2 linked regions of the Homo sapiens genome follow. The protein of the gene in region 2 purifies or fractionates together with the protein of the main gene of each other region. This does not show direct contact. Each region holds a gene or a part of one and is shown on either strand. Other genes may lie near its edges. The genes, in order: ALDH3A2 and CIP2A.

What was found.
Region 1: the proteins of CIP2A (region 2) and ALDH3A2 purify together in Homo sapiens (affinity purification with mass spectrometry; 3 studies listed by BioGRID and IntAct, with this or other methods). This does not show direct contact.

Annotation. Positions count from the first base shown.
Region 1 is NC_000017.11:19,665,542-19,675,066, reverse strand, and holds part of ALDH3A2 (aldehyde dehydrogenase family 3 member A2), read right to left. Parts: intron 3,347-9,525; coding exon 3,111-3,346; intron 1,917-3,110; coding exon of another isoform or gene 1,833-1,916; exon of another isoform or gene 1,792-1,832; intron 1-1,791.
Region 2 is NC_000003.12:108,548,950-108,558,474, forward strand, and holds the end of CIP2A (protein CIP2A), read right to left. Parts: intron 8,466-9,525; coding exon 8,269-8,465; intron 5,541-8,268; coding exon 5,427-5,540; intron 4,782-5,426; coding exon 4,699-4,781; intron 3,425-4,698; coding exon 3,285-3,424; intron 2,371-3,284; coding exon 2,200-2,370; 3' UTR 915-2,199; downstream 1-914.

The sequences.
Region 1 (9,525 bases), on a different chromosome or scaffold from region 2:
AATTTATCAACATTAACCTCTTATGTTTCTCGACCTTTTAAAACCCACATCTCCCACAATGCCTTCTGTAGCTTATAAGCTTTATTGGAACTTTACTTTGTGTACAATACTTCTGCTCTAAATCCCTTCTAATTCTAGTAAGGTAATTAATAAAATAAAATCCAAGAGTGTAACAAAATAAGGAAACTATTAAGTACATAAAAGCCATTTCAGAAAAATGTAATTACAATAAATAGACTATTCAGGTAAATATACAGTACAGATTCAAAGTCATTTATTTTAAATAAAAGGTAATTTGATAAAAAGAGGATTAAAAGCTCAGAAAGGAGCAGAAAAGCAGCAAAGTGGAAAAGAAAACCAAATCTCTACCTAGTTCCAGATTGAATCCAAAGAAATATTAACAACTATTAGTAATGAGAATTGAGCGGAAGGGTTGAAAGTGGCCTGGGGAATCACTGACACCTACTCCCTCACCCTGTAGATGAGCAAGCTGAGGCCCAAGAAAGAGCTCAGAAAAGGCCTTGCCCAAGTTCATTGAGCCAGGAATCAAACCACATTTTTTTGTTTCTGCTAAAGGTTTTATATATTGCTGCTTCTTTTATATATTGCTGCTTCTCTAGACCCTCACAGAGAAACATGCCTGCCAAACCCTTTGGGAACTCGAACCTGCCTGGCACACTGCACTGCACCTGAGGGAGGCTTCTTGGGGGTTTGGTAAGATTGGAGAATGCAGACTCAGCCTGGGCCTCCGTATTTTCCATGAGGCTAAAATATTCTATCCTACCAAGATGCATTATCAAACTGAGGAACCGAGGTCTTGGGAAAAGAACAAAAGAGACAGATATTGACCAGAGACCCAAGTAAGCTTCCGACCACACCTCCAGCCTCAGGAAGGCAAAGAAAGTAGCCCCTAAATTGTATACTACACCTTGATTTCACGACATTTGCTGCCATGAATTCCAAAGTCAAACCTTTTTTTAAAAATGAAAACAAATCAAAACTACTTAGTGATTTAAAAAACATATTCTTAAATTATGACATAAAGAGTTCAGTGCCTAGATGGTGACAAGTCTGAATTAGTCAGCTGGCACCTCCCCCAGGAGAGCTGAGTAGAAGGGGAAGAGAAATGAGGCTCACACTCAGCTGCCCTTTTCCAAGAAATGATGTATGCTTCACCTGGACGCAGCTAAGCCATTGCCTCTGCACACTTCTCTTAGATTCCTAGCAAGTCACTTCACCCTTTTAAAATTGTGGATAAGTGGAGTTTTAACACCCTGATACTCTGGGCCCAGGTCCAAAATGTCTAGAGATAAGTAAGTTAAACATTCTTTTTTCTTTCTTTTTTTTTGGAGACGGAGTCTTGCTCTGTCACCCAGGGTGGAGTGCAGTGGCACAATCTTGGCTCACTGCAACCTCTGCCTCCCGGGTTAAAGCAATTCTCCTGCCTCAGCCTCCCTAGTAGCTGGGACTACAGTCACGTACCACCACACCCAGCTAACGTTTGTATTTTTAGTAGAGATGGGGTTTCACCATGTTGGCCAGGCTGTTCTCGAACTCCGGAACTCAGGCAATCCACCTGCCTTGGCCTCCCAAAGTGCTAGGATTACAGGCGTGAGCCACTGCGCCCGGCCCATTCTTTTTTCAATAACCCTTAAGCCTCCAACTGTAGCAAAAAAAAAACAAAAATAAAAACAAAAACAAAAACAAAAACAAAAACAAACCAAAAAACCCTTGAAAACATACCCCAACTTGGCCCACCTTACATATAGAAAGAAAACAAAAAGTTCCTACCTCACTCTTAACAGACAGGGCTGGGTTTTGAAATCTGGTGTTCATCTCTGCTTACTGGACCAACGCAGTCTGTGAACTACCAGAAAAATCAACAGGGCCTTTCTCCTCAGCACAGCTTGGTATTTCTGAGAAAACCCAAATGATTTCAAATGCAACTGGTATCTCCAATTCCACTAAGGCTGGGATACTGTAAGATGAGCCAAACCCCTTTCAAATTTTTGTTGTTGTTGTTGTTGAGATGGAGTCTCGCTCTATTGCCCAGGCTGGAGTGCAGTGGCATGATCTTGGCTCACTGCAACCTCCACCTCCCGGGTTCAAGTGATTCTCCTCCCTCAGCCTCCCGAGTAGCTGGGACTACAGGTGCGTGCCACCATGCCTGGCTAATTTTTGTATTTTTAGTAGAGACAGGGTTTCACCATATTGGTCAGGCTGGTCTTGAACTCCTGACCTCGTGATTCCCCTGCCTCAGCCTCCCGAAGTGCTAGGATTACAGGTGTGAGCCACTGCGCCGGCCCCCTTTCAAATTTTAAACAAAACATAAACACAACTATTACCATTGCCTTTTCCAAGCCCATTCTTCACTGATATGGTCAATATTTTCAATGTTATATCCTCAGTTGAACGGCTGAGGGCACCACAGACACAATTGCCTTCCTCATTCCATCTTAACTTTAATTACGGATTTCCTCTTTCATCTCAAAATACGCAAACTGCTTTGAGAAGGCAGCTATCATGAGGGCCTCTTTGCAAGCCCATCCCTATAATGACTAATCACCAAAGATAAACTTTATCAGGTAGTGAACTTTGGAGGAAAAAAACTCAAGCCTAATAAAATATCCCTCACCAAAGCTGTTGTACCAGAGTTCTTGCCTTCACCTCTGTGGTAAGCTGATTTCATGCACATTCAAGAACAAAGCTGTAAGTGACAAGGAAAGTCCAATACCAAAAGGATCAAAGGGCTAACCCTTTGATCAGACAGCTCAGAATTCTGCAATCAAGTTCTACGCTGTTTTAATCTCTTAGACCAGAGATCAGCAAACTTTTCTGTAATAATTTAGGCTCTGAGGGCCATTCAGCCTCTGTTGCAACTACTCAGCTCTGTCACTGTCCCATGAAAGCAGCTGTGGATGATTAAACAAGTGGGTGTGGCTGTGTTCCAATAACTTCAGTGACAAAAACGGGTAGCTGGCCAGCAGGCTGTGGTTCACTGACCCTGTCTTAGACTCTACAAGTTAATGTAGAGTCCTGCTAGAATATGCATCTGGCAGCCATCAGGCCAGGACCAGACTGAATGGCACTCATGGGTTATAGGGACTCACCTTGACAAGCACAGCGGCTACAATACCCAGGAAAGTGAGCAACAGGAGACCGAGTTTTTCTTTGTTGAACCGTTTCAAGAGAAAAAATTTTCCCCAATCCACCTTTGACTGGCTGTTGGGAGGATATCTGAGTTTGTTAGCACCTTCTCTCTTTAAACTTTTTAATAAACAGGGACGCTGATGAGAAAAAGTATCAAAACTATGTTTTCCGTGATAAGCTCCCATCCCACTGGAACCTGAAATAAAGGGAACAGACAAAACAAGCTTCACTGTAGATGATGCAAGCTACTTCTGTCTAACAACGACCGGGAAAGCTCACATGCACTCCCTGCTGCCTGGGAACCCCACTGAACATCTCTGCCAGCTGAAGTATCTCTTTTCAGGAAGTCCTTACCAACTTCCCTGGAAAAGTCAATTTCCCTGTCAAACAGGATGCTTTCCATGAGCAAGACAAGGACTTGCACCTCTTCTAGAGCTGTGGCTCTCATTTATGCCAGGGACTGTGCTAAGAGTTAAATCATTCTCTTAAGATAATTCTCACCACAATCCCACTTGGTGAATTATCAGCAGCCTCATTTCCAGAGAGGGAAAGGGAGCTTACAGGGTCAGTTAACCTGCCCAGGGTCACACGGCTGCTAAGTGGCAAAGCCAGAACCCGAACCTGGATCAGACTCTAAATGCTATATGTGCTCTCTTCCCACCATCCCATGTGGCTTCATTCATCCATGGCCCCACACACCCACTTGCTTTCTCAAAGCCTGTGGAAAGTAAGACAGGGCAACAAGGTTGCACAGCTGGATGATAATAAGCAAGTGTAAATCTCTGCCCTCCACAAAGCCATGCTCTGTGACAGTTTCATTTCTCTAATTCATTGTGTGTACAACAGACTGACAGGCACAAAGCGGAGCAGTGTGAGCTGGGCAGAGGGAATGGCATGTGTGATATAAGACACAGGTGACCAGAGGCCAGGGAGCAGTTTACCAAGGCCAGGCTGCAGGAAGGAATCATTCATGAAGCAGGCCTGGTGTGAGAAGAGACCCAAGGACAAGACCATGAGAAACCCTAACTCTGAGGGAGGGTAAAGAATGAGGGAGGGGGCCGGGTGCGGTGGCTCACGCCTGTAATCCCAGCACTTTGGGAGGCCAAGGCGGGTGGATCACAAGGTCAAGAGATCAAGACCATCCTGGCCAACATCGTTAAATCCCGTCTCTACTAAAAATACAAAAATTAGTTGGACGTGGTGGCGCACGCCTGTAGTCCCAGCTACCTGGGAGGCTGAGGTAGGAGAATTGCTTGAACCTGGGAGGCGGAGGTTGCAGTGAGCTGAGATCGCGCCACTGCACTCCAGCCTGGGCGACAGAGCGAGACTCCGTCTCAAAAAAAAAAAAAAAAAGAATAAGGGAGGGGCGAGCCAAAGACATAACCAAGGTAGTAAGAAACTGGGAAAAATTTGGGAGGCTGATGCAGGAGGATTGCTTGAGCCCAGGAGTTCAAAGTTGCAGTGAGCTATGATTGTGCCACACTGCATTCCAGCCTGGTCAACAGAGTGAGACCCTGTCTCAAAAAATAAATAAAAAGCAAAAAACTGACATGAAGGAAATTACAAAGTTTTGTTGAAAGATATAAAAGGGCTATATAAATGAAGAGATGATATAACATATTCCCATTAAGACTCCACATTTTAAAGATATAAATTCTTCCCAAAATAATTTAAGTTTAAATCAATTTTAATAAAAATCCTAGGGGATTTCGGAAGGTTTTGTTTGTTTGTTTTAAGTAGGAGGAGGTAGTGATTCCAAAGATCATCTGGAAAAATAAATTTAGATAAGAACAAGCAAGAAAACATCGAAAAACAGTAATAATGAGGAGCTTTTACTTTTAGGTATTGAAATAGTACTGTGTCCTAAAGAGCAAACTACTGGATTGGTTGAATATGTGGGTTTTGGAGCCAGACAACTTTGGCTCATTTCTTGGCTTTACTACTTATTAGTTGTCTGTCTCTAAAATGCGTGCATTTGACCGGGCACGGTGGCTCACACCTGTAATCCCAGCACGTTGGGAGGCTGAGGTGGGAGGATTGCTTGAGCCCAGGAATTCAAGACCAGCCTGGGCAACACAGTGAGACCCCGCCTCTATACAAAAAAAATTTTTTTAATTAGCCAGGCATGGTGGTGCACCCTTGTAATCCCAGCTATTCAGGAGGCTGAGGCGGGAAGATTGTTTGAGCCTAAGAGGTTGAGGCTGCAATGAGCCGTGATTGCACCACTGTACTCTGGCTTGGGTGACAGAGTGAGACCCTATCTCAAACAAGAAAAAAAAGAAAAGAAAAGGCGTGGATTCAACCGCAGTACCTGGCATACAATAAGCACTTACTAAATGTCACTTATAAAGCTAACTGTACAACTACTGTAATTGAAACTGTGGTACTGGCCCACGGAAAAAACAAACCAGAAAGATAATGCAACCAATGAGAAAACCCTAAGAATGACCCAAACGTGTTTTTATTGAGTACTGATGGTATAAGGATGATTATTTCAAAAAATGGTGCCAGCATAGTTTACTCTTTGGGAAAAAAAAGGTAAATTATTACATCATGCAGCGTATGGCATTCTAAAGTGAACTCCAGGGTGTTTTTTTTGTTTGTTTGTTTTTTTGAGATGGAGTCTCGCTCTGTTGCCCAGGCTGGAGTGCAGTGGCATGATCTTGGCTCACTGCAGCCTCCGCCTCCCAGGTTCAAGCGATTCTTCTGCCTCAGCCTCCCAAGTAGCTGGGACTACATGTGCATGCCACAATGCCCAGCTAATTTTTTTTTTTGTATTTTTTGTGGAGATGAGTTTTCACCATGTTGGCCAGGCTGGTCTCAAGATTCTGACCTCGGGTGATCTACCTGCCTCGGCCTCCCAAAGTGCTGGGATTATAGGTGTGAGCCACCATGCTTGGCCAACTCCATGGTTAAATGGAAAGAAAAGAAAAGAAAAAAGAAAAGAAAAGAAGAAAAGGAGGGAGGGAGGGAAGGAAACTACAGATAATATTTAATTATTTATTTATTTTATTCTTATTTTTTTGAGACAGAGTCTCGCTCTGTTGCCCAAGCTGGAGGTACAGTGGTGCACTCTCTGCTCACTGCAACCTCCGCCTCCAGGGTTCAAGTGATTCTACTGCCTCAGCCTCCTAAGTAGCTGGGATTACAGGTGGTGCCGCCACACCCAGCTAATTTTTTGTATTTTTAGTAGAGACGGGGTTTCACCATGTTAGCCAGGTGCCTTGGCCTCCCCAAGTGCTGGGATTACAGGTGTGTGCAACCGCACCCAGCCTACAGATGATATTTATATAATAATGAAATAGGGAAAGCTTTTCTAAGCCTACTTTCCAAATCGGAAACCAAAAAACAAAAAGCCACACAGGCTTAGGCCAGATGTGGTGGCTCATGCCTGTAATCCCAGCACTTTGGGAGGCTAAGGCAGGTGGATCACCTGAGATCAGGAGTTGAGGACCAGCCTGGCCAACATGGTGAGACCCCATCTCTACTAAAACTACAAAAATTAGGTAGGAGTGGTGTCGGGTGCCTGTAATCCCAGCTACTTGGGAGGTTGGGGCAGGAGAATTGCTTGAAGCCAGGAGTCAGAGGTTGCAATGAACCGAGGTCGCGCCATTGCACTCCACCCTGGGTGACAGAGTGAGACTCTGTCTCTAAATAAATAAACGCTTCAAATCATAGATAAAATTAAAAGAAAAATTAAAATCTGGAAAGGGATATGTATTACAGATAGGACTGAGGATTTTCTTACTTATAAAAAAGGCTATTTATATACCAATAATAAGGAAGATGTGAACACAGCAAAAATATCAAAGGACATAAATAGAAAATTCATGAGAGTGGTAAAAAAAATTCAAACTCACTAATAATCAAAGGAGTACAAATTGAAATGAGACCCTTTTCTGTCTAGAAATTTAATAATGGAATAATCCAGAATTGGGGATATAAGGAAGTAAACACTCATATACTGATCATGGGAATATAAAGTGGCAGAAATCTGCAAAGACACTTGAAATATCTATCAAAAGTCTTAAAGAGAAGCATTTCTAAAGAAAAACCTAGGCTGGGTGCGATGGCTCACACCTGTAATCCCAGCACTTTGGGAGGCCAAGGCAAGTGGATCTCTTGAGCCCAGGAGTTTGAGACCAGGCTGGCTAACATGGCAAAACCGTGTCTCTACTAAAAATACAAAAATTAGCTGGGCCTGGTGGCACACACCTGTAGTTCCAGCTACTTGGGAGGCTGAGCCAGGAGAATTGCTAGAACCCAGGAGTTGGAGGTTGCAATGAGCTGAGATCACACCACTGCACTCCAGCTTAGGTGACAGGGAGTCTCAGTCTCGATAAAAAGAAAAAAAAAAGAAAAATCTAAACTATATGCCAAAATATTAAAAAGTTTAACTGTTTAGACTTTTTGCCACTGTGTCTATATTACTTTGAGAATTAGAAGAAAAAAGCATTTTTTTCAATTTGGAAAATTGTATAAGCCCTTTTAACAGAGTAATTACACTTGTAGACATTTTTCCTAAAGAAATAATCAGAGATTGCATAAAGATACATTATATAAGAATCGTAATACCAAAAAAATTGAAATCACAAAAATCTAATACTGGGAATTGGTTACATAAATATGCCACATTCATATGATGGAAAAGTATGCAGCTACTAAAATTATGACATGCAAGAATATTGACATGGAAAAGTGTCACACTATTCTGTCACATACAGGGTACAGAACAATATATAGTATGATACCTTTTTGAATAGAATATTCAGATGACCGTGTATATGTGTGTGCATATGTGTGCAAGACATATACCAGTTATCTTTACATAGTGGGGTTATGGGTAATATAAATGTTTATTCTTTGGGCTCTTCTATCTTTTCCAAGTTTTCTTAAAAAGCCTGTATTCTTTTTACATTTGGGGGTCAAGGCTTGTTTTTATTTTTTATTTTTATTTTTTTACAGCATGGCCACTATAATAATGTATTATATGCCTGAAATTTGCTAAGAGAGTAAACCTGTTTTTTTCTTTTGCATCTTCTTTTTGTATTTTTAATTTTTGTGGGTATATAATAGGTTGCTTGTTTTATTTTATTATTTTTATTTATTTATTTATTTATTTATTTATTTATTTATTTTGAGATCGGAGTCTCGCTCTGTTTGCCAGGTTTGAGTGCAGTGGCGCAATCTCAGCTCACTGCAACCTCCACCTCCCTGGTTCAAGCAATTCTCCTGCCTCAGCCTCCCTGGTAGCTGGGACTACAGGCACGCACCACCACACCCAGCTAACATTTGTATTTTTAGTAGAGATGGGGTTTCACCATGTTGGCCAGGCTGGTCTGGAACTCCTGACCTCAAGTGATCCACCCACCTCGGCCTCCCAAAGTGCTGGGATTACAGGCATGAGCCACTGCGCCCAGCCTTGTTTTGTTTTAAATAAGATGGTATAGTCAATGATGCCACAGGCTATCTTGTCAAGTAGGACAGGGACTGAACCCAAGTCACTTAGATTTGCAATTAGAGGGCAGTGGAGACACCATATGGAACAATTACCGAGTTGATTACTGCACTAGCACAGTGGATGCCAGGATCCTATGTGGTGAGCTGAGGAACAGAGACAACAGAGTCCAATCTTTTAAGCATTTGGGCTACAAAACTATTACTTACTCCAGCCAAAATCCCAGGAGTCATCCTCTCTCATTCACCCCCTCCTCCAACATTCACTCCATCAGCCAATCCTGCTGCTTGATCCCAAAAATACCCCCTTCCCTTTCCACTATCTCCCCTGCTACCACCCTCTACAAGCCACCACCATTTCCAATTTGGATCTGGCAATACCTACCAATTGGCCTCTTCCCGCCTGTCCCTCACTCATGTCAGTCACTGTGCTGGGTGCTGGCAATATGTTTACCTCCTAGACAAGGACCTGTGGCTATATAGGTCAAGGCTCCTTGGTCATAGGACAAGGTTTCCTTAACCAGGAACAGATGGTCCTGCCAAACTGGGCCATCGCATCCCATGGAGCAACTGACTTAGGACGGTATTACAAAGGGAGAGGATAGAACAGGGCTTTAAGACAGTGGCTTTTCTGGTTGGGTTTTTGTTATGAGAATGTTTACATATCGGCTATTTTGTAATAGCTCTAGTAGAGAGTAGAAAAGCCCACCTAGCCTAGGTCCCAAAGGAGAAATAAAAAGCTGAGTCAGTCATCTCACATGTGGGAGAGGCAGGCAGGTCATGTTCTAAAGGGAAAAGCAAGGATCAGGCTATGTCCACAAAGCTTCACTTGGAATGAATTTCTTTCTGCCCATCCTCTCTAGAACAGGGGGAGTCCCGTTTTACTCAAATCACAAAACAATTCAAGGAGAGGCTGCT
Region 2 (9,525 bases):
ATTCTTTTTTTCCTGACATTAAATTAATGAACAATTTAATATAAACTTTAACCAACCAAATTTTATGAGATGTGTCTATTTGTTCAAGTGGCAAGTGTAAATAGTAACGGAACTGTGTTAATGTATACTTTGGAGACAAACTCTCCCCAGCAAAATTTTAAGAGGATGCGAGTAATCCTAATATAATGATGCACTTCCTAAGTTTTGTTTTTTCCATTAGGAAATGGACATGCATACACACATACAAAACCCTGACTATGGTGGTGGTTCAAATTTGATTAAATTTTTTTTTTTAGAAAAAAAATATTTACACACACTTTTGCTTTTTTAATATGAGGTACACAGTCCAACAAGAAAAAAAAAGTAACTGATATAGTAAAGGCACTCAGAAAAACAACAGAAACAATATGAAAGGTGTTACAAGAGACAGAAAGAGATGAAGGATGATGATTAGTACTCACCTTCTTCAAAGCTGCAGTACGGACTTTCTTCTTTAGGGAGAGAAGATTAGAAATAAACAGGTTAAAATTACATTAAGAAAGGGCTACTACATATATATAATGGGGTAATTATTTATATAGATCTTTAAGAAAAGGCAAATTGAGTTCTTTAAACACATACTTGTGAGAATGGGACAGATCTGCATTATCTAACAGGATGGTTATCAAAATTAAATTTAATAAAATCAAAAATTTAGTTTTTTCAGTTGCAAAGGCCAAATTTCAAGTGCTCAATGGCCACTTTTAGCCACTGGCTATGGGACTGGACATCATAGAACACTGTCATTATCACAGAAAATTGTATAGGGTAGCACTAGGCTAGGCTGTCTCAAGATGTCTAAATTGGAAAGATAAATTGATTTTCCCTAGAATTTTTGGTTCATTCATTCATTTCTTTCTTTAACGTTTTGTCTCTTTTATTTTATAGACCCTTTTATTCTTCAGTCTTATCTATCCACTTAAACTTTTTCATATTTGGTTGAAAATGCATGCAATTTCAAAAGAGAAACAGAATGTATCTCCTCTATAGAACAAATAGTAATTTAAAATGTTTTACTCTGCATAATATTTTTTAAAAAATTTCCAGAACTGTACAAATCTAAATTCACTTAAATCAAACAGACATATGGTGAAGAAAACACCAAGTAAAATTAATGACTGTATTGGTATAGCAATAAAATCAATCAAAATATTGATGTAAAAACGTTTCTTACAGAGTAGTTAGAGGATATGATTCAAATGAAAAGTACAGAAGGACCCTTGTATTTTAAAAAAAATAAAGATATTTAACCTATGCTTTAAAATTAAATGAACCAATTAAAAACTATTAGGACAACAAATTAAATACAATTCATATCAGAATTAACAGTAAATAATATTTTTCTGAATATGCAGCAAGAGTAGAATCCAAATTATCCTTATGTAAATCATAAGAAACTTATAATTAATTATAGATGATCTGGACCACTATGCAACATTTGAAAAAAGAGAAAAAAACACTAAATATACCTTACAAATAATTCTACAAGTTCTTAGATTTTTTATGAGACAGCTATTGTGTTAAATGTAATCATTTAAATGTAATAGTTTAACACAATGACAGTTTTCTAATTTTTATACATTTTATTACCATTGCATTTTTTTCAAATTTAGAAATTATGCTACAGCAGTATAAAAATTATTTTAAATTCACTAATATTTTCTTTTGTGCTTCTTCAGAGACAAACTTCTCTAGCAGTAAAATCATACCTTCTCTCTTTTTACTTTACTTTTTACTTTTACTCTCTCTATATTTTTATTTTGTAATCTTTAGGACTGTTATACCAAGAAAGTTTGGTCTTAAGATCTAAATAATCACAAATGAGAATAAATAAGACAGGCAAAACAGAATAGAAAGCAACTAAGAAAAAGGAAAGAACCTTAGAAAAATGATAATGGAGGTTAAAAATGATTTTCTAATGTAAGAACCAAAGAAAACCTTAAGCCATAAAAGCCAGAAACAAAAAGTAAAACTTAGAAAATTAAATTTCTATTCAAACTATCAAATAAAAAACATGCAACAGATCAGGGTCTTTACTAAATTAGATAATAACTTCTTATTGTTACGAAGTCACAAATTAACTCCCCTACCCACCCCCCCTCCAATAGATAAATACATCAAAAATATCATGAGATTACAAATTCCAAAATGCCATAATGTCTATATACTGAGATTCACAGTTTCTGGATTTATTTTTCCACCACTTAAACTGTGGATCATTGCTATCATGTGGGAGTGTTTGTTCAATTCCTCTTGCTGAAGTTTCACCAAGGACTCTTTCTCTTCCAAACGACCTTCTAATTGTGCCTTTTGAACCTCTAGGGAGGAAGCCTAAGGAATTGGGGTTGGGGGAGGAGGAAGAATTGAGAAGAAAAATAACTTTAATGTTTTCTCTATACATATATTTTAAGATGCTTTTATTTTTTATTGTACAACAACCATTTCAAGACATACTATAAATATTATACTTCAGTTAATTCAATTACATGGTAAGTTTAAAATGAATAATCATTAAACAATATAATACAAATTGAGAATACACTTTCAACTTGTCTTAAGTTAATGCCAGCAGCTGAAATTTTGCAGAAAATACTACACACTACATATTAAAATTACTAATAAGATAATCACATTAAAGCAGAACCAGAAAAACTGTAAATGTGGTACTAAATTTTATGCCTCTTCTGTTACTCAGTAGTAGTAGTAGATCAGTCTTTAATCCTAGTCTGTTCTCATCTTCCTGGTAGTAAACGGGCCAGAAAGTACAATTCATAGCTACCACTCAAGCTATGCAACCATGGTAATATAGAAAGAACCCCGGACTCAGATTCAGAATATATACCTATTGATTCACTTATTAGCTGTGTGACTTTAGTAAGTAACCTCAGACTCAGTTTCTTCAGTTGTAAGTTGAAAATATTTATTAACACATTATATAATATTTGTTAAAGTGAAAATTATACAGCTACCTATATATGACATCAAGTACTGGTAACCCCTTTCTGTATTCTTTGCACACTTGAAAATACCAGGTGCTGACACAAAGTATCTGTTTAATAACTGCTTAACTATTTTAGAAAATACATTATGAAAACCTCATAACAAATGATACTCAAGCTGCTTTGAGATCCTAATATCTTCTAAAAAATTTGCTGAAGAAACAGTACATTCCTTTATCCATATTCACCCTTTTCACAACAGACTTTTTTATTTTACTGCAAATGAGAAATGGAACAGATTCTTACCTTAATGCTCAACTCTTTTCTTATCTGTTCTGTTCTGCTTAATTCTTTTCTAAGGATATCAATGGTTTCTTCCTTATCTTCCCTTTCCTTTTGTAAGGTTTTAATCTTTTCTTCTTGTACTTTTGTTTTTTGATGCAAATCTTAAAAGAAAAAAAAGTCAAGTATTATACTCAGAGGTCTTACACTGACTACTCTGAAATGGTCTAGTAGCTACTGTAAGAGCAAAAGAGAAATAACTAGAACAAGGAAGAGAAACTTCTCTTATGACAGTATTCTATAGAAAATACCAAATCTCCATGTCTTTCTTCCATCCTCTGTTCTAAATATAATATGCTATATAGGTAAAGGACAATTCTCAAAAGTGTAAGGGTTAGAAAAGGGAGAGCTACAACTATGAAAAATTATATAGGTAGGTGCCTGCGCTCTAAGGCAAGTGAGAACAAAAATGTTTTTCAGGATCATTTCAAATATACCATTAAGAAGCTAGTAACTAAAAGTTACCTAATACTGCCACCTGCTGTTACGTTCCTTCAACATTTTTTTATTTTGAAAAGGGCAATCCATAATCCTATGTGATTTAACGAAGGAACAGAAAACCAAATACTCCAAGTTTTCACTTCTAAGTGGGAACTAAACATTGAGTACACACAGACTTAAAGATGGAACCAATAGACACTGCAGACTAGAGTTGGCAGGAGGTTGAAAATTACCTATTGCTACCTATTTGGTACTATGCTTACTACCTGGGTGATGAGATCCATACCCCAAACATCCGTGTCATGCAATATACCCAGTGTAACAGACCTGCACACATGCCCCCTGATTCTAAAAGTTGAAATAATAAAAAAATTAAATTAAATTAAATGGTCAATCATCTCTTTCCTTTTGTTTTTTTTTTTTTTTTTTTTTTTTTTGAGACAGTCTTGCTTTGTCACCCAGGTTGGAGTGCAGTGGCGTGAACATAGCTCACTGCAGCCTTGACATCCAGGTTCAAGAGATTCTCCCACTGTAGCTTCCTGAGTAGCTGGAACTACAGGTGCACACTAACACACCTGGCTAAATTTTTGTATTTTTTGTAGAGATGGGGTTTCACCATGTTGCTCAGGCTGGTCTCAAACTCCTGAGCTCAAGCAATCTACCCATCTCCAACTCCCAAAGTGCTGGGATTACAGGAGTGAGCCACTGTGCCTGGCCAATTTCTTATAGCTCCTAAATTTAAAAAACGTACCACTTTTTCAACTTGATTAAACCGAACTGCTTTTGTGAAACATTATGTCAAGAAAAGGGAAGCCATTCCAAATATGATTTAAAGTTTAAAACAATAAGTAGAAAATAAAAAAGCAAACAAAACCACTCATGCTTCCAAAATAAATACATTAAAAATAGAAAATGTATTAAATAAGAAGCCACTTACTTGCTAGCTTATGTTCTCTGTCTACTAGCTGATTCTGTACTTCTTTTCTCTGTTCTTCTTTCTCTATTAATTGGGCAATACTTCTGAAGTTATTAAAAAAAATAGAAGAAAACATTAATGAACCATATACCATTTGTAACTTTTTCTCCCTACCAAGCACTTTGGGAGGCCAAGGCGGGCAGATCACAAGGTCAGGAGATCGAGACCATCCTGGCTAACATGGTGAAACCCCGTCTCTACTAAAAATATAAAAAAAAAAAAAAAAAAAAAAAGGTCTCGTTCTGTCACCCAGGCTGGAGTGCAGTGGCATGATCTTGTGCTCACTGCAACCTCTGCCTCCCGGGCTCAAGTGATTCTCCTGCCTCAGCCTTCTGGGTAGCGGAGATTACAGGCACCCGCCACAACACCCAGCTAATTTTTGTATTTTCAGTATTTACAGAGTTTCGCCATGTTGGCCACGCTGGTCTCAAACTCCTGACCTCATGCGCTCCACCCACCTCAGCCTCCCAAAGTGCTGGGATTATAGGCGTGAGCTACCATGCCCAGCCTTTAAAACAAAATTTCTAAGAACAGCAATTGCCTGTAACTTCCACCAAATACATATCTTATATCTAAAATAAGTGACAATTCTATTAATTTTATCAATAAAAAACAATGTTCTATATAAAGGGAATCATTTTGTTTTTGAAAAATCCCACATATTCAGAATATAGAACTAGAGATTTTACTTTTCATTTTGTTCCTTGAGTGACTCATTCAACTTTTTCACTGTCTCAATTTGTTTATTCAGAGAATCACATGTGATCTGTAAATCTTTATTCTTCTTTTCAGTACTTTCATTTCTGAAAAGACAAGAAAATGAGTTGGCATCATTATGGAGGAAAACATATGAAGGAGAAAAGAAGCTCACAGTGTTTTCTTTACTATCTCTTCTAACCAAATTGCATATGCTGGAAGAGAAGGAATGTTATGAACAAGCAGGACATAAACAGAATTTCATCTACTCTAAAAGGCAGTAAATACATGTTTTGGTTGACTGATGTGGTAAAAATTACTATGAAATAGAAATGTGTGGGGCATTAATCTCATATTTATGGATATAAAGCCTTATTTTACAGATGATATTGCATTACATAATTTGCTATAAATAAGTTTAGGGTTCTACATTTGTCTCTTTAAAACTCTGCATCTAATAGTCCTAAGTATTTTACCTGCAAGGTAAACACAGAAAAAAATCCTTTCTAAAGTAATACTTTGATACTCAACTACCATAAGCATAAAATGTCTTTTTTATTTCACTAAGCACAAAGATTTTTAAAAAGCAACCCAAAAACCAAACCAAAACAAACAAAAAAAACCAGTAGCCAAACTTGGCCAGCAGTTTTTGTATCTAATCCATACAGGAATTTTAACAATCTGAGTTTGAGTGCCTTTAGACAGTCCTGACCATTACAAATGACCTTTTCCCCAGCCAGCTTCATTTACATGTTATCCACTTGTCCATTCAAGGAATTTCACCTTCTAGCCCCTAAATCACTAGCTGGAACATAAGCAGGTCTTAGAAACCACGTATTTTTCTTGGACGCTGCCTATCTCTTAGGTTCTCTATGTGAGACAAAGCAGGTATCCCCTTTTTAGGAGGTCTGAGGACCTCAAGCTGGAAAATAAAGGAAAATCCTGAGTTCACTCAAGGGAAATTCCAGGGACCTAGATAGCCCTAGAAGTAAATAAGTAACTTGTTAAACAGGAAGGTAATAGTAGCCTAAATCAAAGTTAACAAACTTAAGAGTACCAGTGATACTTGATTCTTTATAGAACTTAAAGAAAACAACTTAACACATGTCCCTGAGTTGTATTTCAGAGACCCGGACCCTCATTGAGGAAGCCCACTGACCAGATCCATTGACAAGTAGAGCTCAGGTAAGGAGAAAATGAAGGCTGAATTTTAACCACTGTTCTTTGTTCTAAGTTTCTTTCTCAGGGTCTTGAACAAAGTCACTCTCCCTAGCTAGTTAACATTTTTCTACTGACCCCAAATGTTTAAACAAAGCTGCTCTTCCTTAACCAACTGCAAATCGAAAAATCTTTGGGTCTACCCATGACCTGTAAGCCCCTGCTTCACAATATCCTGTCCTTTAAACTTAAACCAATGTATAACCTTTAACTATTTATTTATGATTTTTGTCTGTAACTTCCACTTTCCTGAAATTTACTCGCCTTTAAAAATCCTTGCTTGCAAGCTATTGGGGAGGTCAGTATTTGAGCATTTGGCTGCCTGCTCCTCCTTACTTGGCACCCTGCAGTAAAAGCCTTTTTTTCTATCACTGCAAACCTTGGTGCAGATACCTGGTTTTACTGTATTGAGCAAATGGAACCCATTTCAGTTCTATAACGTATTTTCTTCACTGCTGACGTTCTCAACTTGGCTTATCACTAATACTACACTTTATCAGTGGTGCCTCAAACAATCAGACTTTGTAAAAAGTTGCTGGGGTAAATATCCTGTTAAAAAATCACTTTGTCATCATTTTCTAGATACTATTCATTTCTCACCCTTCATTATTATTGATGGGAAATAAGCATATGTACCATGCCAAGCTAAAAATTTCTATATCTCTGTATTAACAACATAGAACAATCTTAAAATATAAAGCAATAAACAAGTTCCCCCAGAGTGTATTTACTTTTATGGGTTGGTAGAAAATACATAATTGTTCCTGGTCTTCCCTGTAATTCAGAAGTTTTACAACTGGCCTAAAAAGATAAAAGAGTTTATAAGGGAGGAAAAACCAATCAAACTTTGCTAGTAGGCACACAAATTGGTACAGGTTGAGCAACACTAATTTGAAAATCCAAAATCAGTCTAAAATCAAAAGTGCTCCAAAATATTAAACTTTTTGAGTGCTACCATTGTGTTCAAAAAGGACACTCAATCTGTATCACATTTTGGAGGAAAATTTAGAAATATCTATCAAAATATTAAATATACATACCCTTTAACTTAGCAATTCACCTATGTGAACTTATTCTACAGATGTAATCACACATGGAAGTAAACTATAATCAAGGATATTAAGAGATGAGTTAAACACTTACACCTAAATTTCCATTCTATTAGGCAGAATGATATGAAATTGCCAATATTCAACTACTTTTGATCTGCAGAAATGACCATTCAACCTAATACTAATTTGACAACTAAGTTTATTTAAAAATTATTAATGAAGTGCCTAACTATGCAGCAAGCACTCCTACAGGCCCTAGGGATCTGTCAGTGATCAAAACAGACAAACTTGTCCTTGTGGAGCTTATCTCCCAAATGACTGCTGACTGTTATGAATACATAAAAGAAGTCAACTGGAAAGACCTGTATTTTGTTTCCAACATTGATACTGAGTTTGAGGAAGCAACACTTCATTTCACAATGACTTAAGTTTCTTGCTAATTACTTACCTCATGTGTTATCAGAATATATGAAATGCTTACAAAAGGATTTTCGGGTCTCAGAAAAGAAATGCTGCATGTTCATTCTAGGTTCTAACCTTACACAGAAGATTTTACTTTATTTACCTCTGAAGAAGTTCCATGTAGGATTTTGTCAGTATTTCATGTTCTTCAGCCACAGACTCTAACTTCCTATTATGTTGAAAGAGATGCTCAATATCACTCTGCGCTCTTTCTGATTCAACTTGCTGCGCCTTCAGCAACACACTAAGCTCTTCATTTTTTCTCTCAACTTCTCTCAACATACTAGCAAGTGTCCGTGCCTCAAAAAAAAAAAGAAGATAGACTTTACCACTATCATCTATATCATATGCTCAACACATACCTACAATTTAAAAGTTTACTAAGTATCTAATAAGCTGGTATCTGTTGGGTCATGCAAAGCTGTATTAGTCACATATACTTAGGACTTTACTTCTAATAAGTTGGATACTGTTATATTTTTTTAACTTAATACATTATCTGATAAAAACAATCTCACTATGATCAAATTAATGGAAATGGATACAACTGCAGCAACATGAAGGTCGCGCTACATACAGTATTCAATTAAAAAGGTATGGTCCTCAGAGGTAGCCATTAACACTAAACTGCTAAGTGTGCACACCATCAGCATTCTCATTTCAGGTGAGAATTAAGAACAAAATCTTAACGACATCACAGATGCTTAATCAAACACTTAAAATTAAGCTAGTATAATCAAAGAATGTAACCTATACCATAACCTGCATGTATTTATTATGTGATATGAAACACTAAAAAAGCAGAAAAGTCGCTAGAATAAAAAGTTGGTTCCCCCCAGCCCTTTGGATTTTATTTTACAATGCTAGACAAAACCCTAAGCCTTTCTCTGTTTTTACGACTTTGTGAAGAACCTGTATCCAGTTATTTAGTGCTATTTTTATAAGAACTTTTCCAGTAACATGAATAAAATATTAAACTCTCTAATAAAATACAAGACATGTCCAACAGACAGAAAATATAAGAATGTGCTATGGGGAGAGGGAAAAATTATTTTAATATCACTAATGTTCTTTCTTGTAATTTGTGACAAATTCAACATACCAGTTAAGACAAATGAAACCATGTTAAAATAAGCAAAAAAGAAAGAAATATGGGGGAAAAAAAGAATACCATTATTCTGAAGAGACTTAAGAGGCATTTTACTAGTCACTTATTTTGATGCATCTTTCAAAAGCCAGGAACACTTTATTATAATTCATTCATTATAAATAATATCAAGTTGTATAGATTCCATTTGTATCTGCTGGGAATTTCATATTACTGCAGTAAGTTCACTCTTAAGGTATACATTATATATGT